4 separate regions of the Homo sapiens genome follow, and all the other regions are reported to be linked to region 1. The links are microRNA targets in miRTarBase. Many come from high-throughput screens and were not tested one by one. Region 1 holds a microRNA gene; each other region holds the end of a gene's coding sequence.

Region 1 (7,122 bases):
TCCTGTGAAGACTCACTGTCATGAGAAGAGCATGGGGGAACCTCCCCTACAATCCACACCTCCCTTTCTCCACACATGAAGGTTAAAGGTCTCCATGTAAGAATCCCTATTACAGGTCCCTCCCTTGACACGTGGGGATTACCATTCGAGATGAGATTTGGGTGGGGACACAGCCAAACCGCAGCAATAAGGAAGACTGAAGGGGCTCTAATTTTAAAAATATATAAAAAGATAAGATTTGGAATGCTGTGTTTGAAGTGATGGCAAATTATCCAATATTAGATTTCTAGGGTTTTTAAAATCCCTCTTCCAAAAGAAAATTTAACAAAGACAGAGGGTAACAAAAGGTAAAGATAAAACCTAGGAAAGTTCAGTGTCATAATTGTCAGGGCAGAATGGATTTTCTAAAGTTAGGGGCAATATATTTTGTGTTGCTGCTGAAACAAATTTGTACAAACTTAGTCTGGTGGTTAATATTACATGTCACTTGATTGAATGAATGCCTAGATAGTTGGTAAAATATTGTTTGTGGGTGTCTCTGTGAAGGTATTACCAGAAGAGATTGACGTTTGAGTCAGTGGAGTAGGAGAGGAAGACCCACCCTGAATGTGAGTGGGCACCATCCGGTCAGCTGCCATCACAGCTAGAACAAAGCAGGCAGAACAAGGTGGAATAAGCTGGCTTGCTGAGTCTCCTGGCTTTCATCTTTCTCCAATGCTGGATGTTTCCTTTGGTTCCTCCTGCCCTTGGAAATCAGACTCCAGGTTCTTCAGCCTTTGGACGCTTGGACTTACACCAGTGGTTTTCCAGGGGCTCTTGTGCCTTCAGCCACAGACTGAAGGCTGCACTGCCAGCTTCCCTGCTTTTGAGGCTTTCGGACTTTGAACCACTGCTGACTTCCTTCTCTAGCTTGCAGATGGCCTATCATAGGACTTCACCTTGTGATCATGTGAGCCAATTCTTTCTAATACACTCCCTTTTATATATACATGTATATGTATTGTTAGTTCTGTCCCTCTTAAGAACCCTAATTCACAACGTCACTTAACACAAATTAATTTTCTTAGGATTCCAGATAGCAGAGGTCTGAAATGGGTTTTCCTGGGCTAACATCTATGTGCTGGCAGGGTTGTGTTCCTTCGGAAAGCTGGGAAGAGCTCTCCAGGGAAGATTTCTTTGCTTTTCCTGTTTATGGAGGCTGCCTGCATTGCTTGGCTCATGTTCCCTTCCTCCAATTTCAGACTAGCAGATAGAACACTCTGACTTCTGATTCCATGGTCAGACCTTTCACTTTCTCTTCTACTGCCCTCTCCCTTCTAGGGACCCCTGTAATTACATTGGGTCCACTTGGATAGTCCAAGATAATGTCCCCATTTTGTTTCTTAATTGTATTTTCAAAGTCCCTTTTGCCATGTAAGGTAACATAATCACAGATTCTGGGGATTCAAAAGAAAATTTCACAGAGACAGATAAACATATCAAACATATTTGGGGGTCATTATGCTGCCAACCACATCACAGGCAGTTATAATGCACATGGATAGTAGAGAGATTGCAAGAGGGGAAAGTGTGGAGAGGAAATGGAATTAAAGATGGAGATTCTCATTCAAATCATTAGTGAGCATAACGAAAAAAGTATAAGATGACTAATAGAGCATCTCAGTTGCCCCTTTGTGACCATGTAAGTTAGACTTAAGTCTAAGTATACATTATTGAATATGCTTTATCAATATTTTTCTAAGGTAAAATTTTCATTCATAAAATGCATAGATTTTTACAAAATATGTAATCTGAGTTTTGATAAATATATGCATGTGGTTTACCACCACAGCAATTAAGACAGATAATTTTTTCACTCGAAAAAGCAAATACCCACAGATTTCATACTTCCAGCAATATATTTTCATTCAAAAATTTTTAATCTATAGATTGGATGAAATATATCTATTTTTATATGTATATAAATATATATATACATATGCATGTGTGTGTCCATAATGTTCCTTGATTTTTTCTGCTTCTAAAGGCTGCCTGGAAGCGAAAGAAGGGGTCCCCTTCTTCCATTTTCAAGCTTGCAAATTCATAGCTTGAAATTCTATGGTCAAGTCATCGTCTTCTCTCACTTTGACTCTAAAGTATGTATTTGGTTCATCATAAGATTTATATATATGTATATATATATATACATATACCTTTCTACCTATATATTTGTAAGTTCTCAAAGGATAGAGACATTAAACTCCTAATACCGGGCTTAGACAACTGGCCTACCACATTGTATTTGTCCGTTTTCACACTGCTGATAAAGACATGCTAGGGACTGGGTAATTTATATAGAAAAAGGTTTTATATATATATTTTTTATACTTTAAGTTCTAGGGTACATGTGCACAATGTGCAGGTTTGTTACATATGTATAATGGACTCACAGTTCCACATGGTTGGGGAGGCCTCACAATTATGGCAGAAGGCAAAAGCCATGTCTCACATGGCAGCAGACAAGAGAGAATGAGAGCCAAGCGAGGAGGGTTTCTGCTTATATAAACCATCAGATCTCATGAGACTTATTCACTACCAAGAGAACAGTATGGGGGAAACTGCCCCCGTGATTCAATTACCTCCCACTGTGTCCTTCCCGCAACATGTGGGAATTATGGAAGCTACAATTCAAGATGAGATTTGGGTGTGTAAACAGAGCCAGACCATATCAAACATTTTGATAACCTCCATTATTACGTTTTTGCTATAGTATCAATATTGACTTATCAGGAAAATATTATAGTGCATATTGTAGATCTCTGAAATAGAATCATTGCTATTATAGTATCCTCTTCATGTAATTCCTGCATATCTTTTTATTTACCAGGACTGTTAGTGATATTAACCACAAGTTATTGCTTTTAGTAAAATATTTCTTGGCAGATCTTGGTGTCTAAATGAGATGACTGGGTTTTTTTTATTGTTGTGTTCTTCCCCTAACTATAATAATTAGCTATAAAATTATCTCAGACATATAGTTGGTTAATAAAAACCTAGGAAATAAAGATTAGACCAAATTAAAATTTTGTTTGGAGCTCGAGCAGAGTCCATAAATCTAAGTTGGCAAAAACAAATGAAAGTATTTTATATTTCACTTGGAATTTTAGGAAAGAGCACTAGGAGAAAATGCATATTTTTTTTTCATCACTTGCAGGGAATAACCAGAGAAGGAAAACTCTGCAATCCCATTGATATCTTGGTACCCTTGCCAATTGACTGGGCTACACACACCTTATATAATGAGTCTTAGAGACAATCAGAAAAGTATTCCCACATAAATCAAGAAAATGGATAGCATCAAAGCATAATGTTGTTGTCATTACTGGAAGTCCAGGGCCAAAGTTACATGTAAATTGGCAAACAAGACAAAATCAATGCAAGTGACTTGCAGGTTTGAGTCTGAAAACCTGGCTGAGAGAGAAAGCTGAATATCCCACGTGGATGAGGGTGGCCTCAGATGGAAATGAGTGGTTTTAATTTAAGCAGCTTGCTGTTGACAGAAGGGACTATCTGCCATGCTCATCACTTATTAGCAGTGCTGATGGCTTCACACTTGAAGAAAGTAGAGAGTTAAATTTATTCAGGTCATCTGTAGGCAACAAATATGGAGACAAAGTGGCAAGGGCTGTTTTTCCCAAATGTTAATGTGCATAAAAATATTAAAACAAGCAGGAATTTTACACTATCCCACATACAAGGCTCTGTTTTGAGTAATATACTCAAGTCAAAATACATAATATTATTTTAAAATTTAAAAAAATCACTTGACGTGTTGGCAAAACAATGAAACTTAAAGGACATGGGCTCTGGTGCCAGATGATCTAAAGTTTGAGTTTGCCCTGGCCCTGAGTTAGCTGTATAAACAGGATATGCTACTTAACTTTGATAGCTTTAGTTTTCATCGTGTGGAAAATGGAGAGGATGCCCATCTCACTGTGTTTTTATGAAGGTTAAATGTGGTTATAGATTTAAAATATGTTGCATGCCTTGCACGATACTGGCTTCCCATCAAGAGTTTTGAGTATATTACAGGTATTTTCCCCTCTTCTTCCCTGCTATCATTCTCAGTTGTCTTTTGGTGGAAGGTAGCAGATTGGATTAAAAGATTGCTTTTTTTTCTTTTCTAGAGTTCAACTAGGCCCTTTAATGTTGGAGGAACCAGGGATATTCTGTGGACATAATTCTGGACAGCAGAACCTAGTTTTCTCCATGCAGAGGAGAATCATGCTGTCCTCAGAGGGTTTATTCTTAAGCAGTTCTCACTGACATGAGAGACAGTGACCCAGTGTGTTGGCATGGAGGGATGGGCAGGAGTGCACCTTGCAGTAGGCAAGTTCTCCTCTAGTACATGGAGCTGCCTCCACGTCACACACTCTGGCAGCAGAAGTTTTGGTGCTGTGAAATCTGTGTTCTCTAGGGATGACTGAAGTTGTCATCCCAAAGAGATTTGAAGGGAATATACTCTCTCTAGATACAAATAACACATATCCTATGTGACAGTCTGTCTTCTTGTTGCTTGATTTTATCCTGATGTTCAGTTGACATTACTGCTTTATATAGAAATGGTTAAGTGACTTTTTTTCTTGTTTACTTTTTTATTTTTTATCACCTGAGCAGACATACATACAAACACACTTACATGTTTATATTATATTATATATTTACAACCCAAGGTTAAAAATGATAGAGCTGCGGTGCTTATAAACAATTTAGTAAACCTGAAATTGTTACTAATACAATTTAAGCAGTTTAGTTAACTTTTTAAAAATTACCAGCACTTGTAAACAAATGTTTCTTAAAAATGTGTAAGAACTAATACTCCTGCATACAAATTTTAGTTGATTTCTCTCCTTAGTTTTAATGGAATAATAATGTTTTATTGTCATTATCTGATGGACATGATTACTGCAGATATTTTATCATGTTGGCATTATGATTTAGTAGAATTTTACCGTTTAATTCTTAAATATACACAGAAACACTGCTCAGAGTCCTCTGGGCAATAATATCTGGTACAGATGCATGAGGGAAAAAGAGCAAAGCTATTACTGTTAGGAGTGTCTGGTCACTTAAATCTTTCACACATCAGTGGAAGAATAGATTTCTTAGTGCTGAAAAGCACAATGATGACTTGTATGTTATAGATTTGTGATTACATTAAAACTTAAAATTTCACAAATCTATAATATGCAGGTCATCACTGTGAAAACTATACGTTTGCAAAAGCCTTAAATTATATAAATCTTTATGCATTTAGTAAAACGTTATTTCCTTTTATGTTGAACTTTGTCATGACCTGTTCTAGAATATTACATGGTATTGACTTTTGAAATGGCAGCAAAGGAACAAGTTTCTTAAATATCTATTTGATTGATTTACATTCATGCAGATGCATTAAGTCTTTCACTGGTTGATGTTCTTCTTTCCAAGTGGATTACAATCAGATTGAAGACCAACTTTCCAGATTCTGCCAAATCCCACTTCTCACTCACATTTCCAAGATTGTCTCAGGAACATTCTTCAACAAACATGACAACATCAAGTCTTTCAAGTAGTGATTTTTCTTTTTATGAATGTAGGCATTACTCTGTGAAAATGAATTACATTAATGATAAAATGCAAGAAACTAACAGCAAAACATCTGATATAAGACAAGATAAAATGTGACACATTTATTGAATATTAAATAGTTACTTAGGTTTAAATATTTAAAACTATGTAGATATATGGCAATCTCAAATACATCCAGAATATGAAGGGGAAATTGAGTTTAATGCATATACCTATATTTTCTTAATATTTCTGTAAATGTAACACTAGCTATTTTGTGTAGAGTTGTAGCCAAGTCAAGAAACCAGTCTTAGTCTATAATGGTTTGAGACCTTGACGAGTAAATTAATACCTTTTGGTTTTATTGATGACAATACTGATGTCTGGGATAGGAACTTTGAAAGTCATTTCTTCTAAGTAGCAAAGCTGCTTGTTGAATTGCATTTTCCATTATCTTTGCTGAGGGGTTCCATAGTCACCTCTGCATCAACATCTCCATTCAACTTGTCATTTTCCCTTCAGTCCTTAGGCTGATTCTAATTTCTATTGATTAATAAGTGGCATTACATCTTGCCTGTTCAGCCAGTCTCAGCCTCATGTCCTCCTCACATTCCATATCCATTCTTTTTCTCCACTTTCTACATTTGACTGATTGCCAAGACCTATACATTTTAATTCTATAATAACTGCCCAATCTATTTCTTCTCCACTACTGCTGCAACTACTTGAGTTTGAGTCTCCATCGCTTCTTATTTGGATTACTCTAATGAATATATAACAGATCTCCCCACCTCCAGTCCTGTTTTCCTCCAACTTTTCTTCATAGGGTTGTTACCATATTCTTGGAAAATAAAAATCAAGTCGAGTTACCCATCTTCCACTGCTGCCCACTTCTTGTTAAAGGCCTTGACTGGCTTCTCTTAGATTAAAAAAAAATCAAGATAAGAATTGAACTGAACACTGAGAACACATGGACACAGGGAGGGGAACAACACATATTGGAGCCTGTTGGAGGCACCAGGGGAGGAAGAGCATCAGGATAAATAGCTAATGCATGCGGAGTGTAATACCTAGGTGATGGGTTGATAGGTGCAGCAAACCACCGTGGCACAGGTTTACCTATGAAACAAACCTGCATGTCCTGCACATGTATCCCACAACATAAAATTAAATTAAAATTCGTATTAGAATTGAACTATTAAATTTTGACTGAAAGAGAAAAGGGTAGATGCATCTCATTTTCTTCACCTACAAAATGCTATGATCTAATTTGATTAAGGACTCATCAGTCTCCCCAAATTCTACCATCATAGATGAAATTCCTGTGCCTGCTTTTCCTGGCACCAGTGTATCCTGTGCCTCTACCACCATATACTGTCTATCTCTTAGACACCCAGCTTATAATAGAGAAGACAGAAACCAAAAGAATTGTTGATTCTTAGGATAACTTGGGGCATGCCTAAGTATGCCCTAAGAGCATACTTTCAACACTGAGTCGAGAAGAATTACTGAGTCTTAGGATAATTTTATGAA
Region 2 (7,122 bases), not on the chromosome of region 1:
TCTGGGCAACGGCGACGGCGCCTTCGTCAGCTGTCTGCCCCTGGCCGCCGCCCGACCCTCGCCTTCGCCCCCGGCCGCCCCCGCGCGGCCGTCCGTACCGCCTCCGGCCGCGCCCCAGTACGCGCAGTGCACCCTGGAGGGGGCCTACGAACCTGGTGCCGCACCTGCCGCGGCAGCTGGGGGCGCGGACTACGGCTTCCTGGGGTCCGGGCCGGCGTACGACTTCCCGGGCGTGCTGGGGCGGGCGGCCGACGACGGCGGGTCTCACGTCCACTACGCCACCTCGGCCGTCTTCTCGGGCGGCGGCTCTTTCCTCCTCAGCGGCCAGGTGGATTACGCGGCCTTCGGCGAACCCGGCCCTTTTCCGGCTTGTCTCAAAGCGTCAGCCGACGGCCACCCTGGTGCTTTCCAGACCGCATCCCCGGCCCCAGGCACCTACCCCAAGTCCGTCTCTCCCGCCTCCGGCCTCCCTGCCGCCTTCAGCACGTTCGAGTGGATGAAAGTGAAGAGGAATGCCTCTAAGAAAGGTAAGTCCGCGGGCCTTGGATGGGGCCACCTGGGGTTGGGGACGGAGCCTCCCCCGCGGAAATGCGCTGGGAGCGTGGTGTCGCTGCCTTTCCAGACAGCGGTTTGGGTTTTGTGGAGGAGACGCGTTCCCGGGCGAATTCCATGGAGTCTGCCTCGAGTACAGATTCGGAAAATGTGCCAGGCATTGAGAAAATTTCAGGAAGGAGCTCTCCGTGGAACTTCTCCTGGTACAAATTCTGTTCCTAGGGACCCAGGAGGGCTGCGCTGGGACTTTGATTCTAACTAGCTCCACTGCTCACCCACATTCTGTCCCCGGCCTCAGGCCTGGCTGACGCCCTGTCTTTACGTTGCAGGCAAACTCGCCGAGTATGGGGCCGCTAGCCCCTCCAGCGCGATCCGCACGAATTTCAGCACCAAGCAACTGACAGAACTGGAAAAAGAGTTTCATTTCAATAAGTACTTAACTCGAGCCCGGCGCATCGAGATAGCCAACTGCTTGCACCTGAATGACACGCAAGTCAAAATCTGGTTCCAGAACCGCAGGATGAAACAGAAGAAAAGGGAACGAGAAGGGCTTCTGGCCACGGCCATTCCTGTGGCTCCCCTCCAACTTCCCCTCTCTGGAACAACCCCCACTAAGTTTATCAAGAACCCCGGCAGCCCTTCTCAGTCCCAAGAGCCTTCGTGAGGCCGGTACTTGGGGCCGAAAAACTGTGGCCTGCAGAAGTCCCAGGCGACCCCCATCCCTATCTAGACTTAGGAGCTCAGTTTGGGATGGAGGTGGGAGAACAAAAATGAATAGGGATTTCACTTGGGAAATGAAGTACTTTAGTTGGCTTCCGAGTTCCAGACTATATGTCCAGATATTAATTGACTGTCTTGTAAGCCACTTGTTTGGTTATGATTTGTGTCTTATCAGGGAAAAGGTGCCCAGCTGCCAGCCCAGCTCCGCTGCTATCTTTGCCTCACTTAGTCATGTGCAATTCGCGTTGCAGAGTGGCAGACCATTAGTTGCTGAGTTCTGTCAGCACTCTGATGTGCTCAGAAGAGCACCTGCCCAAAGTTTTTCTGGTTTTAATTTAAAGGACAAGGCTACATATATTCAGCTTTTTGAGATGACCAAAGCTAGTTAGGGTCTCCTTGATGTAGCTAAGCTGCTTCAGTGATCTTCACATTTGCACTCCAGTTTTTTTTTCTTTAAAAAAGCGGTTTCTACCTCTCTATGTGCCTGAGTGATGATACAATCGCTGTTTAGTTACTAGATGAACAAATCCACAGAATGGGTAAAGAGTAGAATCTGAACTATATCTTGACAAATATTATTCAAACTTGAATGTAAATATATACAGTATGTATATTTTTTAAAAAGATTTGCTTGCAATGACCTTATAAGTGACATTTAATGTCATAGCATGTAAAGGGTTTTTTTTGTAATAAAAATTATAGAATCTGCTGCTCTCTGCTTTTCTTACACTCTTTAATAATGATTCTCTTTCTTTAAAGTTGATTCAGTTTCCTGTATTTGAATTTTCTTGATTCTGCTATGAGAATTTGTTTATGTTGATAACTTTTTTTTTTTTTTGACACGGAGTCTTGCTCTGTTGCCCAGGCTGGAGTGCAGTGGCACAATTCTGGCTCACCACAACCTCTGCCTCCCAGGTTCAAGTGATTCTCCTGCCTCACCATCCCCAGTAGCTGGGATTACAGGCATGAGCCACCATGCCCAGCTAATTTTTTGTATTTTTTTTAGTAGAGACGGGGTTTCACCATGTTGGCCAGGTTGGACTCGAACTCCTGACCTCAGGTGATCCGCCCACCTCGGCCTCACAAAGTGCTAGAATTACAAACGTGAGCCACCACGCCCAGCCGATAACTTTTAAAAATAATACTTCCTACAGGTTGTGTACACACCCAGCAAGTTATGGGCAATTAGTAGTTTAAGAGAGAAAACTACTCTGCCAAATATCCAAGTAACTATGGAAATACTTTCCTTACCTTGAGTGCCCTAATTTTATGGTAGGTGTGTAGTCTGCACATTTAACTCAAGTGTTAGGTGCCTACTGTGGAATGTTGTAAAGCCAAGGAGACACTTCAGGGAGATCTTGTTCTTTTGTCTCCTGTCCTCACAAAAGGAAGAGGAAAGGTGACCTGAAGACTTTGTTTCTTGGTTAGTGTTCCCTGAGAAAGGCAGCTGCACATCAAAAAGTTCTCAGTGGCTGAATTCCCATTTCCAAAGTCAAGAGTTACAAAGGAGGCTGGGAAAGGCTAGTAGTCACAAATTTCTACTTCCTGTAACCCAGACTGAGTATCTGGCGGAGAGAGAGCACAGACAGTGCCTTTCTGATTTCAAAAATGAAATATTTTCAAATGAATACTTTGGAAGAGGTACAAGCACAAAACTTGAAAGTTGACAAGAGAGTATGTGGTTAAAAAAAACCCCAAAACCTATTCTCTAATCTATTTCACCCAAACTCCCATTTCTCATCCCGGGAGGCATTCATAGTTGACCAGAGTTTATGTAAACTTGCAGAAATATGAGAAAAAGATGCAATATAAAGATACAGAATCAAGTGGATACTTGGGACAGTTTTGGGGAGTACGTCCTTATTTTACAACTATATCTTTAAGTTCTTTCTATAGTTCAACAGAAGGGCTAACGGCCCAAATAATTCAGATAAGAACCTCAGCTCTTTTAGCTAGATTTCTAGATTCCAGTATAATGCTTTAAATCTAATTATTCATAAATCTAAGCAACTGTGAAAGATTACCTTTTTTATAAAGCAGCAATATGATTAGTTCTCTTAGAAAATTGGAGTTACACTGAAGTTCTCATTCTTTGCACCTATAGTTGAATGGAGTTGAAGAAATAAAATGATCAGCTCCAACAAACTCAGCTGATTAGAGGGAAAAGATACTGCTTAAAAAGCAGGTCTGTCAATATTATTCTTGTTTCCCCGGCTGCCCTTTAATAACTTGATGCTAATTGAATCTTGTTTGAAACAACAGCCCCCCTCTGAGCTCTACTGCTATTTGAAAGAACTTGTTAAAGGACTTGTGATCTGCTTGCTTACAGCCACCTCTGGGCTTCCCCTGCAGTGGTCTTTGACATGACAATGTTTCCTTTTTGATAAGCATTTAAATGTACACCTAAACAACAACAACAACAAAATACCAACATGCTGGGTCATTTCCTTAATCTACCACCCTTTTCTCTGAGAAAATAAAGCTTTTCCTTCTGAAGCTAGTACTAGCACTTAGCCCTGATGGATGTCTTCCTTGATGAAGGTGGCTATTATGACATTCGTATAATGCTATTCTATGAATCAGGCCAATATTAGCTATTTTTTGCCCAACCCCAGGGATCTTTAAAAGCTTTCTTAATGCAGATCACTGTACAGCTATATTCAGTATTAGGAAGAGTCCTGGCTGGAGATCGGGATGAACTAGGTGACCTCTGGAGGTCCCTCCCAACAATGAAAATGCTACAATTTAATGACTTCTGCATATTTTATTTTAGACCTATCATTTGAAGGGAGTTAGGCTCTAAGAGAAAGCAAATGTGCTGTCTAGGATTACAGTGATACTGTGTTTATACAGGAAAAGAGGATTTTAGACACTATCAAATACATGTTGTCAGTGGAGGTACCTAGGCAATGTGGATCATTTACAGAGCATTCCTTTTCCTATTATTTTGAGCCTTGTGTTATTTTGAGTCAGATCTCCATGAAGTATGAGGTTACTATGTAAACTGCAACTACTCAAACAATCCCGTTTCTATTTTACAAGATTTCAAACTAAATATGCTAATTTACCCTCCAGTGATCTGTTACAAGGATGAATACACAGTGGACAGTTCTGGCTGTTGTATAATTAACTATTCAATGTTCCTTTGTCTTCACATAATGACCATGTGTCTACTTTTCTGGATCAGGATAATTGGGAGTGAGGAAAAGGAAAGCACTTAATAATATATAAAATTCCCATAAGTTGAGTACTAGCAAATGAAGGCTTTGCTGATATAAAAACCTAAAGCAATGTCACCTAGAGTTTCAAAAGATTAATTGTGTGTGATTTATGCTGCCTCAATCTCAAATATGGTGAGGACCAACACCAGAAAAGGCTGTCTGATTATCGTGTCATCCAAAAAAAACAGAAGCAGGCTCAGGAGAGTTGCATTAGCTCTGAAGTTCTTAATTATTCCTTATGGCCAAAGAAATGATCTATATTTGCTGAATATTGAATTTGAAAACCTCAGGATCTAATCAGTTTCCGAGAGTTGTTTAGTCTGACCACAGACCTCTCAACAAGAAAAATGCCCATTGTTAAAACTTTATTTGTGGTTTTAAAGTAAAACCATAGTGGACATATCTCACGAAGATAAATATCCGTCTAAATAGAAACAAAGATGTTCATGGTTTTTACCTCTATCTAATGTTTTCAAGTCATGAACATGCAACAAATCTGCAAAATAACTCTATTTCAACATCTCATTTGTAATTGCTTATTACGTTGTACTTGTTATTCAGAAATAAAATTTCTATAGAAACTGTTTAACTAGATTCAATAATGAACCAAGAGGATGAAAATCCTAAATATTGGTGTGAAAGGAAGGTCTATTACTTAGCTTGTAAAGATTTCAACATAATCTCTTCTCCTTCTAGAAATCTTACTGATGTATTTTGGAAAGAAGGGCCAAAGAGTAGTCATTTGGACTTGTCATAGCTAATAAACTATTACAAGTTTATTAAAACTGACACTTTTGAGGCATTTCTAGAAGGTGCTGGACTCTTCAGCACACTGAATTCTTAGGGATTTTGTAGAGCCTAAGCTTATACAATTTGGGGAAACCTCTTTAAGGAAAAAAATACAAAATTGTTAATACAAAATTCCCAGGATGTGGAATGGTTCAAGTTAGTGAAGTTTACATTTCACTGGGCTCATAGTAAATTCATATCTGCCCCTTCCTTGAAACCATCACTTTTTCTCCACTGCCATCATTGCCTATGAGATAATAGCAATGATCGCTTTTCTCTAACATCTTAGAGCCAGAGTCACTCTTTCTCTTCAAATGCATCAAATAGTGGATAATGGGGACAAGGGCAGGTTGGCACTCTGTTCTACTCTCTTAGCATCTCAATCTCACTGTGCTCTTCTGGGCTACTGGGTGGCTGACTTTAGCCAGTGGCTTTTCCCATTCTACTGCCTTAGAATGGGAACCCTATCTCATCCTAGAGGTCCCCTTCTGTTGTGTTTTCTTCTCAAAGATATAAACAGAAGAGAAAGATATAGCTGGAGACAATGCAGCCACATTGTTAGCGTCTAAACATTTCCTAGGATGGAACCACTGAGGCTGAAGTAAAGGACCCTGAACAAATAACATTATTATTTTTCTTTTCTTAGAAATGGGATCTTGTTTTGTTGCCCAGGCTGGTCTTGAACTCTTGGGCTTAAGTGACCCTCCTGCCTTAGCCTCCCAAGTAGCTGGGAATATAGGCATGCGCTGTCACACCCAGTAAGAACATTATTCTTTTGCTTTTTTTTGAGATGGAGTCTCGCTCTGCCGCCTAGGCTGGAGTGTACTGGCGCAATCTCAGCTCACTGCAAGCTCTGCCTCCCGGGTTCATGCCATTCTCCTGCCTCAGCCTCCTGAGTAGCTGGGACTACAGGCACCCGCCACCATGCCTGGCTAATTTTTTGTATTTTTAGTAGAGACAGAGTTTCTACCTTGTTAGCCAGGATGGTCTCGATCTCCTGACCTCGTGATCTGCCCACCTCGGCCTCCCAAAGTGCTGGGATTATAGGTGTGAGCCACCGCCCCTGGCCAAGAACATTATTCTTAAGGGAGGAGACCTGGATTTCAGTACCAGTTGTATTTTCTGATTAAAAGGAAAAATAGCTTGCCTGGTCTTAGATTCTCCTATAAAACAAAGTGGGTTGGTCTGGATGATCATTACATTCCCTTATCACCTTAGCATTTCTTCACAATCCTTTACTGTGCTGGTTATTACTGAAGAGTATTTAGTAGTACTGTAGCTCTGTAAGATTAATGTCAATGAGAGGCTGGGATTGAAGTAATTTCTGAGACCTTTAAAAATTATCTGGCTTGGGCCAGGCCCGGTGGCTCACGCCTGTAATCCCAGCACTTTGGGAGGCCGAGGCGGGCAGATCACGAGGTCAGGAAATCGAGACCATCCTAGCTAACACGGTGAAACCCCGTCTCTACTAAAAATATAAAAACAAATTAGCCGGGAGTGGTGGCGGTTACCTGTAGTCCCAGCTACTTGGGAGGCTGAGGCAGGAGAATAGCGTGAACCCAGGAGGAGGAGCTTTCGGTGAGCCGAGATCGCGCCACTGCACTCCAGCCTGGGCGACAGAGCGAGACTCCGTCGCAAAAAAAAAAAAAAAAAAAAAAAAAAAAAAATTATCTGGCTTTAGAATCTGGGTGTATGTGCATATGTATATGTGAACTAGGTAATGTTCCTCATTTGTCTACCTGATGAACTAAAAGCTAACGATGGTGAGAGCCTCCAAAAAGACCACTTTCCTTTGAATAGATAAACTAGATCTTAACAAGAGATTTTTCAAATGGTGTCA
Region 3 (7,122 bases), not on the chromosome of region 1:
GAAACTAAGGTTTTTTGACTCTTAGTAGATGGCACATTGATGAGTCACACTCCTTCCATTGAAGCGTCTAGCAATTTCATAACCAGCCTATAGAAGATACCAAGCACACATGTAACTTTTAATTTAGGTTTCAAATCATTGATTGAAAACAACAGGATATCCTCAGAAAATAAATGAAAGATAAAAGGCACCTATAATTCATCTTTCAAGACTAATCTGATGACCTATCTCAAGATTTGCAAGCCGATGTCACAGACTTTTTTTTAAGGGAGATGGGTTAGGTCCATATAATGTTTAGGGATTTAAAAGTTGTTGCTTGATGATGCAAAGTGGTTTCTAGTGATTGTCATTTTGTTTTCTCAGGGATCACCCACTTTCTTTGAAATCTGGTGCAGAATTGTCATCTAAAGTGCATGACAAATTTGCCCATGTCTAAATTACAGTGTATGCCTTTTGCCATGGTTGAAAGTGATAGTAAAATTTTGTGAATTTTAAGCAGATTCTGATTTAAATATTGTTTTAAAGATTTGAAAGGTGCATTATTTATTGTTTCTTGTCAGCATTATCTTGCAGAAATTGTAAGGGTTAACAAACTGGTTGTTCTCTGTCAAAATTACTGAACCAGTCTTATAACTTCTTTTAATTCATTTATTTCATAAGGAGAGAAAGATCTTTGAAAGAGTAGCTATTTTTAAGCCAACCCTAAGCATATTCCTTCCTTTATCCTTCCCCCTAATTTGTGAGGTCAATGACATCCACCCATTTGACTGATAGCAAATCCCATCTGTATGAAATCAGCTTATCTAAATACATTAGGAATGCCCAGCAGGCCTGTTTCATGGAAATTAAATTGGTGAATAACTTTGTGGTGAGAAAATCATGAGGTCATGGTCACTATTGCTTTAAAACTAAATGAGCAAATCTTTCGATCAGTTTGCTTTTGCTCTTTCCATAGTCAGAGTTCAGTGGTCATTTTCCTCTCAGAGTTTGACATTCAGAGCATCTCTAAAGCCAGAAAATAAGAGCAAGGTTAGCTGTTGGGGTTGGGGGTGTGCTGATGAAGTATGAGGTAAGCAATAACCCTGACTGATGAGGTGTGAATATATTGCCTCAAATACTGCTCAAAAGTTTGTGATATGAATTAGAACTATTATGTCTTTGAGATAATCTTAGTATAGACATTATATTTGGAGACTTCTGTGTATTATGTTAGCATATTTTGCTTAGAGACAAAGAAGTAAGATTCTATACAGTAAAATGGTAGCTGGGGGTGGGGGTCATATCAATTTAAAGAAAAATAATTTTGTTATGGGCTACTCTGTGTTGGGAAAGTACTTCTACTTGGTATCTCCTCATTCCAGGTTAAAAACCTGAAATCTAGGAGGTGAGCATTGCTTAGGATAATCATCTCTTAAGAGTTATAAACATAGCTTAGGCAATAACTCATGAGAAAATACTTGTTTGTTGCTTCTCTATTTCCCCTTTCACATTTCCTAAGGAAGCCGTTTAAAACTTGTGCATGTTCATGATATACCAAGTCTTCCCTTATCAAAGTCATACCTAAGTAACTAAGATATGATGAAGAAAGGTTTTTTTAGAAAAAATTTTGGTGCAAAGAATTATGTCAATATGTTTTTAAAATGTGCTTATTCTTAAGATCCGTGTATCTGATCTCAGCACATCCCAATAGTTTGTAAAATGAAGGACTGCCTATTGTTAAATGACGCTCAGGTATCAACAGAGCAAATAGAGTGATACTTGGTAGGAAAGTGGGGTGAGGGGAACAGTCATGGTTGGGAGAAGAGGATGTCTTCTAGAACAGTGTTTATTCTAAGGAAATAACAAGGTTGAATCCCTTTGACTCTACGCTTTGATGTCCTCTGGGTCATCTGATGATACACCTATTTTCGTGAGTGGTAGGATGTTTATGAAGAAGGTGGTGAAAAATGCAAGGACATTCATGTCTTATTCCTCTGAAGTTTATTTGCTACAATACATTTGCCATGGAATTGTATGTGAATACTCTTTCAATTTAATTTCAGTATAAATATCGTAGGGCATATAAGTAGAAAAAATGAAGGTGGAACTGGCTGTAAGCAGAGGTTATTTAGGAAATAATCTCTGTAATGCAGTGCTTCCCTACATTTCAAGACACACATTAAAAATGGGAATGTTTGTTAAAATATCCTGAGGTTAGCCAATGAACATGATGGAGGCTGGGAGCTCCAATTACCCCAGGCACTATACACCACCCCAAGGTGCACACCTGTAGCCCATCTGCAAGGCATAAATCTGTAAATCATCTGTAACACACTGATGAGAAAGCTCTGCACAAGTGTGACTTTTTGCAAGTAGATTTCCATCTTTTCCATCTTCATAGGTAACACTCCACATGCACTCAATCTATTTGATCCTCAACTCAGCAGCTTATTTATTAGTAAATGTATCTGATTTGTGCTAATCACAAAAATTATTCTTTACTCTGAGTTTTTATGAAGAATCTGGCCACTTTGTCTCAATTACAGCTATATGTAACACAAAGTCATTAAATAAAATTCACGCAAGCTGAAAGAAAAAGGCATGCTCTTCAGTAAAATCTTTGGCATTTCAGGTCTTCTAAGAAATAACCACATCCACCTCATCTTTGTGAGAGGTCTTTATTTCCTAAGTTGATGATGACACAGTAATAAAAAAAAAAAGTGCATGAGTCCATCTATTATCTTCCCTGAGCCTGAAAAACAAAATAACCTATGCTCCAACCCTAATCCCAAATCCACTCTCTTCCCACATTCACCACCACCAGAGTCATATCCACCTCTTCTTTTCTCTCGATATTGCATGTTGGAAGAGATAATTTAAAAAGTAGTAATTGAGTCATCCAATAGTCTTTAGTTGCAGCAATTTCACACTCTAGCTACACATTACAATAAACTGGGGAGCTTTAAAAATTTACCAGGTGCCATTAAATACTATTCCATAAGGATGGAGAGACAAGATGCCCCAGATAAAATAAAATAGTTTAGAAATAATCTGAGGCAATTAATATGCTGAAATGCAATACAAAGATGAGCTCATAGAAAGTACTGATTATTGTTAGCATTGAAGTTTTAAAGAACAAGGTTCAGAGGAGCTGGGGCTTGAGTTGGAAAGTGCAAAGGATATCCTCAGGTAAAGACCAGAGAAGAGGGCTTGATGAGAGAACAGAGTATGAACACTATAGACAGACTCCAGGTAAACTCGGAGTGGTTGCGGAAAAGGAATGAGGCAGGCCTGGTTAGTTTTAATATTAATTTGAGAAGCAATAGGAATTGGTATTACATAACTGGGCAAATTCAGATGATGGAGATACTTGAAAATAACACCAAGAGTTCATCCTGGAGTTCAAATGATAATTAGAGGCTTTCATTGGAGAGGAAGGAAATGAGATTACAAAGATAGGACAGTGCCCAAAGTCTCTGGGGTTCTTGAGGGCACCACTTGAAGACTGACTTCTGCAGCAGGTTTAATGACTTGAATCTATCACCCCTTCTCAATATATACCTTTCTTGTTGCTCATTACCGTAAGTGTAAATATCCCTGATAACCAGTTTGTATGTACAACTATTACTATGTGTTTTCCTTTATGAAGCATGTCTCTGGGATTTCCTATTGCATAGCACCTAATAGCAACTAACAAAATGTAAGTTATAACAAATATTTCCAAGATGGTAATGAGCTCTTCTCTAGTTATATAGTCTTGGATACATCACTTAATCCCTCCAATCTTGGTTTACTACATTTTTGCAATGAATACACAAGATTTACGTATTTTCTAATCTTACATGTAGCATTAACTTCACATAAGTTTCTGATTATCATTCTCAGCCATATAAATGATAACATTTGTAAAGAGAAATTGCTTCATTCCTGGCCATTTACTCCCACTAGGTTTGAGCAATCTATTATTTATACAAGGAATTGTACAACTTTTGTTTTCTCTGGACAGTTCAAAAAAATAACTGATGTTTGACAAGAAGAAAAGAATATTGATCTTATTTATTTGTTTTTTGGGTTGATAAATAAAGCTAAATTTAAAAATCTGTAGGTAATACACTGTAGTGGCATAAATATTTAAGATCAGTAAAGGAAATCATCAAACTATTGTCATTCATACATGAAACGTACAAAGCAAATAGTTATGATTTAAAGATTTTAATACATAATTAAAAATCAACAATTATTACATAGTTATATAACATTGATACTGTTAGATATGTGGATGTATATATTTTTCTTTCCAGTAAAATAGTTTCATGCTTATAAAAGTCACCCTAGGTCAACTTGGGACAAAGAAAACAATGTACAGTAGAAATAAACCAAGTATTAAATAGAATATATAGGTAAGGAAAAAATATTATAAAGCAGTTACATTTTTGACACACACACACACACAAATAAATACACTTTTCTATTATTTGAAGGCAATTCACAATCATTTCCAGGAATTCCGTGAGAATTTAAGGCCATTTGTTCTAAAGAAATGCTTTAATTTAGACACAACTTCACAAAACTGTAATTCTTGTAAAAACTGTACATGCAAAAACCCTTTACAATTATTCGTGGACAGGCAGGTCAGTATATAGGAGTAGGTTATTTCACAAATGTGTTGTGCACTAAGTCACATAGTTGTATATATTTAACTGGGAATTTCACAAAAGACTTCCAGCCTGTGCACCTTGTGTGGCAACGTGGAATGGTGATAACAAGAAATTCCGATCAAGAGAGCCAGTATCCCTTTGAATTAAAATATCTAGACAAGATATAATGGAATAAAAAGTTTAAAACATCTGCTACATAGTTCACAGTTAAATAGTCTTGGTTTCAGTCTTTCTAAATAGCATTATTATATAAGGATGCTACTTTTTACAAAGTATTTTCTGTGCATTTATAGATCACAATGTTTGACTTTTTATAATTTCTACTTAGTGTTACAAAATACAAACCAACTGCAGTCTAAATTTAGAACCCAAACTCCATGAAAAATGCATGTTCAACCAGGAGACACATCTGCCGGGCTTAAACTCCCATACCCAGCAAACATTGCTGAGAAATTGTTTATTAAGCAGATGTAGTTTCTTAAGACAATCCAGTTACTGAAAAATAGAAAAGCATTTTTCCCTTCCCTTATTTGCAATTGTGTTTGTCCAGACAGTCATTCAAAGAGATATTGCTCTTGTGATTATAGCTATTGCAATTTAGAAGACAAAGGATTCAGTATTTAAAACTCTTATTTTTAAGAACAGTTATAAAAGTATTGAAATTTAAAAAGTAGTAACATGTAAACATTGATACAGAGACTGCTTTCCTATACACATAGCAGTCGAAGACAATATTTGAGTTAAAAACACAGTTTGTGCTTTTTCCCAACAATACATTGGAAATTAGCTGTTTCTGTTAAAAAAAAAAAGAAAGAAAGATTTAGAGAAGACATCCATACTTTGCTTCAAGCATTTAAACAATTTTTTCTGTTGCTCATGCAACAACCATATTTACAGTTTTGGTTTAGGAAGATATTTAAATTTGGATCCAAGAAAGCACATTAACTGCTGAAACCAAACTGAGAAAACTATCTCATTGCCTGGTTCATTACAGAGCACCAGGCACAAAGCATTAACTCAGCACTTTTGATTTGTAGTTGACATTAGCATTTCAGAGCACAGTCATATTTGAGTCTGTAACACATGTGTAGGTGGGGTGTATGGGGGAGGCGCAGGTGATGGCTTGATTCCTCGGGCTCTCATATAGGAGAGAAACTGCTCAGGGATCTCAGCTAGGACATCTTTAGCCAATCTAGCCATGCTCAGTATGTGGTTTCCACTTCTGTCAATATAATCCCTGAATGGCACAAACTAAAACAGAGACGAAAGAAAGTTATTTCACAGACTTTAGCAGGCTATGTAATAAACACAAAAAATCAACACATGTACACATTTGGTCATAGGAAAATCAGGGAATCTGAGAGTAATGGAGAGATGGATAACAATTATTATACATTTTTAAAAATATTCAATAGGCCAGGCATGGTGGCTCATGCCTGTAATCCCAGCACTTTGGGAGGCTGAGGTGGGTGGATTACCTGAGGTCAGGAGTTCAAGACCAGCCTGACCAACATGGTGAAACTGTGTCACTACTGAAAATACAAAATTAGCTGGGTGCGGTGGCACACCCTTGTAATCCCAGCTACTCGGGAGGCTGAGGCAGGAGAATTGCTTGAGCCCAGGAGGCAGAGGTTGCAGTGAGCCGAGATCATGCCACTGCACTCCAGCCTGGCCGACAGAGCGAGACTCTGTCTCAAAAAAAAAAAAAAAAAAAAATTCAATACACTACAAATAGCTATAAGTGACTAAACTTACATAATATATGCTTTATCTCAAAAGGAATGCAATCATTTTCTATGTTTTTCCTCCAATAACTCATGTCACTTAATCCTAATAGGCTTATTATGTTGCCAAATGTCTTCTGCAGTTTTAGGTTCTATACCCAGCCTGAATCCCAACAGGATGGAGCATTTAACCTCTTTGGGGCTTGGTTTCCTGTCAAATGGAGTTAATATATGCCTAATTCAGCTTCTGATATAAAAATACTACCCAATTCTGGATAAGAAATGAGTATTACCCAATTCAGGGTAAAATATAATAGTGTACATTGTTAAAAAGTCCTAAACACATTAAAGTATTTTAATTCTTTCTAAGACAAAATCGCATGGACTATGAATATAGAATTCACACAGCTCATATTAATAGGAAGCTGAAATATTCAGTACATTGAGTTTTGCATCAGATGTTGATTTTTGAGTATCTACTATTTGGGAAGACAGGAAAAAAGATCTTGGCATAAGATTTGGGTATATTTCTTATGGAAATATCATCATTCTAACAACATATATTAGGTTGGAACAAAAAGTAATTGCAGTTTTTGCAGTAATTTGTGGTTTTTCAATGGCAAAAACCGCAATTACTTTTGCACCACCCTTAATAAAAATGATTACTATATCTTTATATATGTAATTATGTGAGAGCCCTTATCGGCTCAATACCAAATGCTCCTGTAATAGATTGCCTGATTCCATTCTCATTTATAATG
Region 4 (7,122 bases), not on the chromosome of region 1:
ACGGGATCAGTGGGAGTCCAGAGAGCTTCGCCAGCTCCCTGGATGGCAGTGGGCATGCAGGCCCAGAGGGCAGCCGCCTGGAGCGTGACGAGAATGACAAGCACAGTGGCAAGATCCCCGTCAACGCCGTGCGACCGCACACCAGCTCCCCGGGCCTGGGCAAGCCCCCTGGACCCTGCTTGCAGCCAAAGGCTTCGGTGCTGCAGCAGCTGGACAGGGTGGACGAGACTCCGGGGCCTCCCCATCCCAAGGGACCCCCTCGCTGCTCTTTCAGTCCTCGGAACTCACGGCATGAGGGCTCCTTTGCCCGGCAGCAGAGCTTGTATGCACCCAAGGGCTCCGTGCCCAGCCCCTCACCGCGGCCCCAGGCACTCGATGCCACACAGGTGCCGTCACCGCTTCCACTGGCACAGCCGTCCACACCCCCCGTACGGCGGCTCGAGCTGCTGCCCAGTGCGGAAAGCCCAGTGTGCTGGCTTGAGCAGCCTGAGAGCCACCAGCGGCTGGCGGGGCCGGGCTGCAAGGCAGGGCTGTCCCCAGCCGAGCCCCTCCTGTCCCGGGCAGGCTTTTCCCCAGACTCCTCCAAGGCGGACAGTGATGCTGCCTCCTCAGGGGGCTCGGACAGTAAAAAGAAGAAGAGGTACCGACCTCGAGACTATACGGTTAACTTGGACGGGCAGGTGGCTGAGGCGGGCGTCAAGCCTGTCCGGTTAAAAGAGCGGAAGCTCACCTTTGACCCCATGACGAGACAGATCAAACCTCTGACCCAGAAAGAGCCAGTGCGGGCAGACAGCCCTGTGCACATGGAGCAGCAGTCCAGGACAGAGCTGGACAAGCAGGAGGCCAAGGCCAGCCTCCAGAGCCCCTTCGAACAGACGAACTGGAAGGAGCTGTCACGCAACGAGATCATCCAGTCCTACCTGAGCCGGCAGAGCAGCCTGCTCTCATCATCGGGCGCGCAGACCCCAGGGGCTCACCACTTCATGTCTGAGTACCTGAAGCAGGAGGAGAGCACCCGGCAAGGGGCCAGGCAGCTGCATGTGCTGGTGCCTCAAAGCCCGCCCACGGACCTCCCTGGTCTGACCCGGGAGGTCACACAGGACGATCTCGACAGAATCCAGGCCAGCCAGTGGCCGGGGGTGAACGGGTGTCAGGACACACAGGGTAACTGGTATGACTGGACGCAGTGCATATCGCTCGATCCGCACGGCGACGACGGGCGCTTGAACATTCTGCCTTATGTCTGCTTGGACTGACCGGCCTGTCAGCCACAAAGTGCATTCCCATCTTGCAGAAGCCGGGTGGGCGGGCAGGCAGGTGGGCAGGTGGCCGGGGCCCAGCTGCCTCCTGCGCTGGGAACTCGGGGAGTCCGGCCCAGGCGGGAGGGAGGGGGCGGGAGTCACGCGGTCTCTCTGCGCTCTTCCCTCAAAACTCTTTTTGTGAAATGCTGCTACCAGTTTACTAACAAAATTGCGAAGAAGGACCGCGTGGAAGGAAGGACGGCAAAGTGAGTTCAGAACTCTATAGCAAACCAGCTATAAAAAGCGTTAGTCCCTCACCCCCAAAGAGGTGCGGACACTTTCCAGCACCTGAAAGCTGGGGCCTCAGTTGCAGGCAGGCACAGAAAACCTGTGGGAGAGGTCACCTTTAACACAGCAACAGAAGCACGCATCTCATCTCTCTTGCATTTTCTGTTCTTTAATTTGGCCCTGAGTGTCTTGAGACAGTGGGCCATGCCACTGCCTCTGTTTGCTCCCTACCCAGCCACTGTCAGGCCAGTGTTGTCTGTCATGTGCCAGAAGCTTCTCAGCTGTGGTGAGCCACTGGCATTGGGCAGGCGGGCCAGCTGGCCAGCCAGTGTGACCCACACTCCATGGGCAGCCACCTGTTTATATCTGGTTTCAGTTATAACCCAGTTTTTAAAGAAATGCTGCAAAAATTTAAGTTTTCTCATGTTTATTTTAAACAATTCCTCTTCCATCAGACCACCAGACAAAAAAACCTTTCCTTTCTTCCTCCCTTTTCTTTTTTCCCTTCCTGTACACATCTAGAAAACTTCACCTTTCTAGAGTCCCCCCAAAACAACACAAAAGTTATTGTGGGTGCTACTGGTTTTATGCTGTACTGTGGGGCGAGGGGGAAGACCTGTCTGTACGCTGGAAACACTCATAACCATTCCTTTAGATTCGTTTGCCTTATGGTTATTTGTCATAAACGCGATTTGCAAAAACAAGGAGCCTTAGTGAATGTACAGTACCTAGACTTCTGTGTTCTCAGGACGCAGAAGGGAGCAACTTTGCTATTTGGTCCAGTAAGTGGACACCTTGTGATATAAATGTGGAAATAAAAAAAAAAAAAAAACCATTTGCACAAACCAGTCTGAGAATCTTTTCTCATTTGGACCTTCACAACCAAATCAGCCCTTTCCTGGATTGTGGATTATTAGCCAGGAACACCCAGACCCCAACAGCTGCAATGCAGGGAGACAGGGCAGGGCACAGCCTTGCAGTCCACCTGTTAGCCTGCTGCTGCATTTGGGAGGACCTCCACATTTTATTCATTCAGGGCCACATTAAGGAATGTTTTCTTGTCTCACCCAGACTTTACCTGGCCTAGAGAGCAGCCCTCTGTAGGAGGCTCCCATAGCACAGGTCTCAGTGACTACCCCCACCTCAACAAAATACCTAGTTCTTACAAGGTATGGCCCAGAGGCTCAGAGCTGTGTGTGTGTGTCTGAAAGGCCACCCCATGGCCCTGGCCCCCAGCTGCCTTATTAGCTGGTTGGTGCTGACTCCAAAAAAATTTTTCTCCCTTGACTATAAAGTGCTCATCTTTTAGTTCCCCCTCGTCCCTGAAACTGTAGGCTAAGACTTTGGTTTTCCAGTTTTTCACTTTGGAATAGGTCATCTTACCCATATCTGCTTAATTTCACAAATGAAGAAACAGCTACACCTTAAGACATGCAGTCTCACAGGGCAAACCAAAGGTTCCTTCCAGCCTGTAAGACTACAGTCAGTCCAGAGCCAGTTTGAGAGCTAGCAGGGATTCCTGGCAAAAGCTTGGTGCAGAACACACTCCCCTCCCCAACAAAAGGCCATGGGCAAAGTGGCTTTGAAGGCAGGATGAGGTTGAACCCAGGCCTACCACCCACCAGCTGTGTGGCTCTGAGCTCATCTCTTCACTCCTGTGCACATGTCCCCATTTGGGGGGTGAGAATACCCCAGAGTTGTGAGAACTAAAACACAAAGCATGTCAGTGTGTCAGTGGAAGTATCTGACACTCAGCTGTGCTGTAGGGTGCCTATAGTTATACTTTCCTAATTTCACTGTGCCTATGTTTAACAGCTCTGCTGAGACATGGTGTCCCAAGGATGTGACTTTACTCTGATCCACAGAGGGTACAGCTGGAGGATATTAGGGTGCAGAGCTTGGCCTCCTATCAGCATCTCTAGAGTTTTGGGATAGGTTGCAGCTCCCCACTACCCCTGCCTGCAGGGACTACCATGCCTGTGTCCATGTATCCAGAAGGGCCTAGGGCCTTTGAGAATGCAAGGATAAGCTAAGATACCTTCCAACATTTGGGGAGCCAAGTTGGGTTGCTGCTTTCTACTTTTCTTTGAGACTGGGTCTCGCTCTGTCACCCAGGCTGCAGTGCAGTGGCGCCATCATAGCTCACTGGAACCTTGACCTGGGCTCAAGCCGATCCACCCACCTCAGTCTCCCTAGTAGTGGGTACCACAGGCGTGCGCCACCACGCCTGGCTAATTTTTGTATTTTTTGCAAAGATGAGGTTCTGCCATGTTATCGATGCCACGATCTCCAACTCCTGAGCTCAAGCAATCCGCCCACCTTGGCCTCCCAAAGTGCTGGGATTCCAAGCTTGACTCACTGCACCCAGCCGGTTGCTGCTTCTAATTTGACAAGTAAAAACACTGTAACGGAATTTTAACACCCTTTCCCCGAAAAAGTTGGAGGCACACGATGTGGAGAACAAATTATAGCCCTTGAATTAGTATAAGATCATCTTACTGAAAACCTCGTCCTGTTTTCCTCCACTGGGGCCTCCTGGGGCTGGTCCATCCCGGCTGGTCCTTGGACATCAGCCGTCAGGGCCCGGCACCTCCCCCTTCTGCAGAGCCTTGGAGACAGGTGTCCAAGGACGCTACCATGACCACGGTCCCCAGTGTGGCCAGGAAGCCTAAGACAAGTCGCTTCCCCATTCTGGACTTCGGTCTGTGAAATGCGGACAGTGATACCTACCGCACCGCGTTCCTAGGATTCAGTGGGATGATACCAGGGCCACGCCCGAGAACTGCGCACGTCGCGGTGGTTTCCAGAACATGATTCCAGGGATCGGGTGCTCCGGGATAGTCCCACTGCCAGAGTTTGGCCACGAGCGTGCGCCCCCAGTTTGCAGAGCGAGTTTAGCCCAAGAGCTTTTCACAAATGGTTTCTTTCCCTAAAAGGCCTTTTACCTTTGGTGTCAGCCGCCGCCAGCCATCAGGAATCAGGAATCTAGTTAGCGGTTGCCCTTGTATCCCTGGTCGAGGCCCTGATGTTTGGCCCACGCACAGACGCCGACGCTGCGAAGCCCTCCGCGCTTCTGTTCGCCCGTCCCGTTCGAGCTCCGGCTCCCGGTCACTGGGACCGCCCACGTCTCAGGTGGCACAGCTTGGACGCAGGTCTGTGTCCCCTTCTTCCGCTTCCGGCCTCGGCTCCGCCGGAAGCGCATCTACAGTGGACTGGGCCTGCACTCGAGACGTGGTGGCTGGCGCGTCGGCCGGCGCGGAGGGATGACGCGAGGAGGCAGCGACCAATGGGAAACGGCGTAGACCGGGGCGCCTGCCCCCCCGCCCAGCCCCGCCCCCGCCCGGCGTCGGGCCGTCGGACGGGCTGGAAGGGGCGGCCGCTCGGGCAGGATGGCGGCGGCCGCGGTGGGCGCGGGCCACGGCGCGGGGGGCCCGGGCGCAGCGAGCAGCAGTGGTGGGGCGCGCGAGGGCGCGCGGGTGGCGGCGCTGTGCCTGCTGTGGTACGCGCTGAGCGCGGGCGGCAACGTGGTCAACAAGGTGATCCTGAGCGCCTTCCCGTTCCCGGTGACCGTGTCGCTGTGCCACATCCTGGCTCTGTGCGCTGGGCTCCCGCCGCTGCTGCGCGCCTGGCGCGTGCCCCCCGCGCCGCCCGTCTCGGGCCCCGGACCCAGTCCGCATCCGTCGTCCGGCCCGCTGCTGCCGCCGCGCTTCTACCCGCGCTACGTGCTACCGCTCGCCTTCGGCAAGTACTTCGCGTCCGTGTCAGCGCACGTCAGCATCTGGAAGGTGCCCGTGTCCTATGCACACACCGGTAGGTTCCGCGCCCGGCCTCGGGGGCGGCGGCCGGGCCCGCCGCTTCGGGTTTGGGCGCATGGATAGGAGTGCGCCGCCCGGGGCGCGTCCCGCCGGACTGAGAAGTCAGCAGAGGGGCTGCCAAGGGTTTGGTAGGGGAGGGACACGCACGGGGTTCTCAGGGAGAAGAGGAGCTGAGAAGAGAGCTGAGAGGTAAGCAGGACAGACCACAACAGCCGTGGCAGGAGGAAGCCCTACCGAAAGAGAAGGGGCGAAGAGGTGTGAGGGGCTGCCAGGCCCTCCCATCCCGCCGTGGAGGTGGAACAGGTTGGGCCCTGAAATTCAGGCAGCCCCCTGAGTGCCCATCCCTCTCTTTGCAGTCAAGGCCACCATGCCCATCTGGGTGGTCCTCCTGTCCCGGATCATTATGAAGGAGAAGCAGAGCACCAAGGTAACCCCGGGCAGGGACTCTGGGCAGATGGGAGCTCCAGGGGGTTCCTCCCTGTTGCCAACTGGTGACGTGGTCAGGATCCTGGTCTGCAGGCTGCCTGGCTTCCCGTCAAATAGGGAAGTCAGTGTAGAGGTCTCCAGTGGCCTTTTACTACTCAAGTTCTAGAATCACCCTGTGAGCAGTGGTGTGTGGAGTATGTGTCCCTCTGTGATCTCTGCTGTGTGGTCTTAGGAACACTGTTGTCCCTTTCAGATCCAATTTTCCTCCCCGTTTTGATTCCCTACCTGGGTTTGCTGGTAGGTGATGGGTTGGTCACATCTTGGCCATACACCCCATGTGTGGCCTTTCCAGTGGGACTAGGGATGGATGGATCAGAACGCTGTCGGTTAGGTGTTCACTTTTTTTTTTTTTTTTTTGAGACGGAGTTTTACTCTTGCCCAGCCTGAAGTCCAGTGACACAATCTCAGCTCACTGCAACCTCCGCCTCCCAGGTTCAAGCAGTTCTCCTGCCTCAGCCTCTCAAGTAGTTGGGACTACAGACGTGCACTACCACACCTGGCTAATTTTTTTGTATTTTTAATAGAGACAGGGTTTCACCATGTTGCCAGGCTGGTCTCAAACTCCTGACCTCAAGTGATCCGTCCGCCTCAGCCTCCCAAAGTGCTGGTATTACAGGCGTCAGCCACTGCACTTGGCTAGGTTTTCACTTCTTGACAAGAGATTTCTGTCAGGGGACCTCTGGGATCAGAAGCCAGACGCGATCCAAGGAGTTCGATCTTGGCAAAATCCAGCAAAGTCTTAGAAATTAAAACAGCCAGAAGTTGTGATGGTCTGGGAACGGAAGCGAAAGTGGCACACAGGACTCAGGGCTGCATAAGGAGGATGCTTTGGGCACAGTCCAAATTCTGTTCAAGATGCCAAGCCAGGGTATTTCCTGGCTTGGGGCAAGAATAGCCATGGCTTTAGCCGGAGACAGCTTTATCCCGTATTCTTAAGTGGAAGTTGGGCGCTTGTTGTCTCAGCCGGAATCCATTTCATGCTGATGCTGGACACCGTGCCTCTTTTCCAAGTGGTTGGTTTCTGGCATGTTGTATTTTATGTAACTCAGAGAGGTAGTGCCCTGGATCGGCTTATAGAAATTGGGCCACCTATGGCTGATTTTTTTTTATTCCTGCCTGTCTTTGTCTCAGCAAGACCTGTGTGTGCTCTGTAGCCCTGCTCCCCCAGGGTGATGTCAGGCTGTGACTTGGCTCCTGAGAAGTCAGAGTTGTCCCTGAGGTGTGTAGCTGCATCACCGGATATCATCGTGTGTATCAGGTTTCCCCGTTGTACGGGACATTGTACCCAGCTT

The links. Region 1 holds the annotated microRNA hsa-miR-4719 (UCACAAAUCUAUAAUAUGCAGG, at 5,212-5,233, shown strand). A microRNA usually pairs through its seed, bases 2 to 8, with sites in the 3' UTR of a target mRNA and lowers its output. Matches are read on the target gene's strand: a 7mer-m8 pairs with bases 2 to 8, a 7mer-A1 pairs with bases 2 to 7 and ends in A, and an 8mer does both.
Region 2: the mRNA of HOXD1 is a reported target of hsa-miR-4719. Seed matches in the 3' UTR shown: 7mer-m8 at 1,432-1,438.
Region 3: miRTarBase lists CPNE8 as a target of hsa-miR-4719. Seed matches in the 3' UTR shown: 7mer-A1 at 4,689-4,695, 8mer at 4,635-4,642, 7mer-A1 at 4,542-4,548 and 7mer-m8 at 4,429-4,435.
Region 4: the mRNA of MED26 is a reported target of hsa-miR-4719. Seed matches in the 3' UTR shown: 7mer-A1 at 1,437-1,443.

What each region holds. Positions count from the first base shown.
Region 1 is chr16:76,863,777-76,870,898 of GRCh38, forward strand. MIR4719 (microRNA 4719) reads left to right here and starts at 5,160; the gene lies at 5,160-5,243.
Region 2 is chr2:176,188,927-176,196,048 of GRCh38, forward strand. It overlaps HOXD1 (homeobox D1), which reads left to right. Exons shown (of 2, transcript NM_024501.3): 1 at 1-527; 2 at 882-1,981. The coding sequence ends at 1,216. HAGLR (HOXD antisense growth-associated long non-coding RNA) reads right to left here and starts at 32. Exons shown (of 3, transcript NR_033979.2): 1 at 1-32. RefSeq lists an enhancer at 3,344-3,884.
Region 3 is chr12:38,648,183-38,655,304 of GRCh38, forward strand. It overlaps CPNE8 (copine 8), which reads right to left. Exons shown (of 20, transcript NM_153634.3): 20 at 4,021-5,888. The coding sequence ends at 5,700. Among named protein-coding and RNA genes, the nearest start is that of CPNE8, 250 kb to the right of the region's middle.
Region 4 is chr19:16,570,161-16,577,282 of GRCh38, reverse strand. MED26 (mediator complex subunit 26) reads left to right here. Exons shown (of 3, transcript NM_004831.5): 3 at 1-2,364. The coding sequence ends at 1,256. It overlaps SLC35E1 (solute carrier family 35 member E1), which reads left to right and starts at 4,868. Exons shown (of 6, transcript NM_024881.5): 1 at 4,868-5,339; 2 at 5,701-5,771. The coding sequence starts at 4,919. LOC105372295 (a long non-coding RNA gene) reads right to left here and starts at 4,733. Exons shown (of 3, transcript XR_936360.3): 1 at 4,475-4,733. RefSeq lists enhancers at 4,562-4,651, 3,959-4,833 and silencers at 4,752-4,971, 5,102-5,211, 5,372-5,501.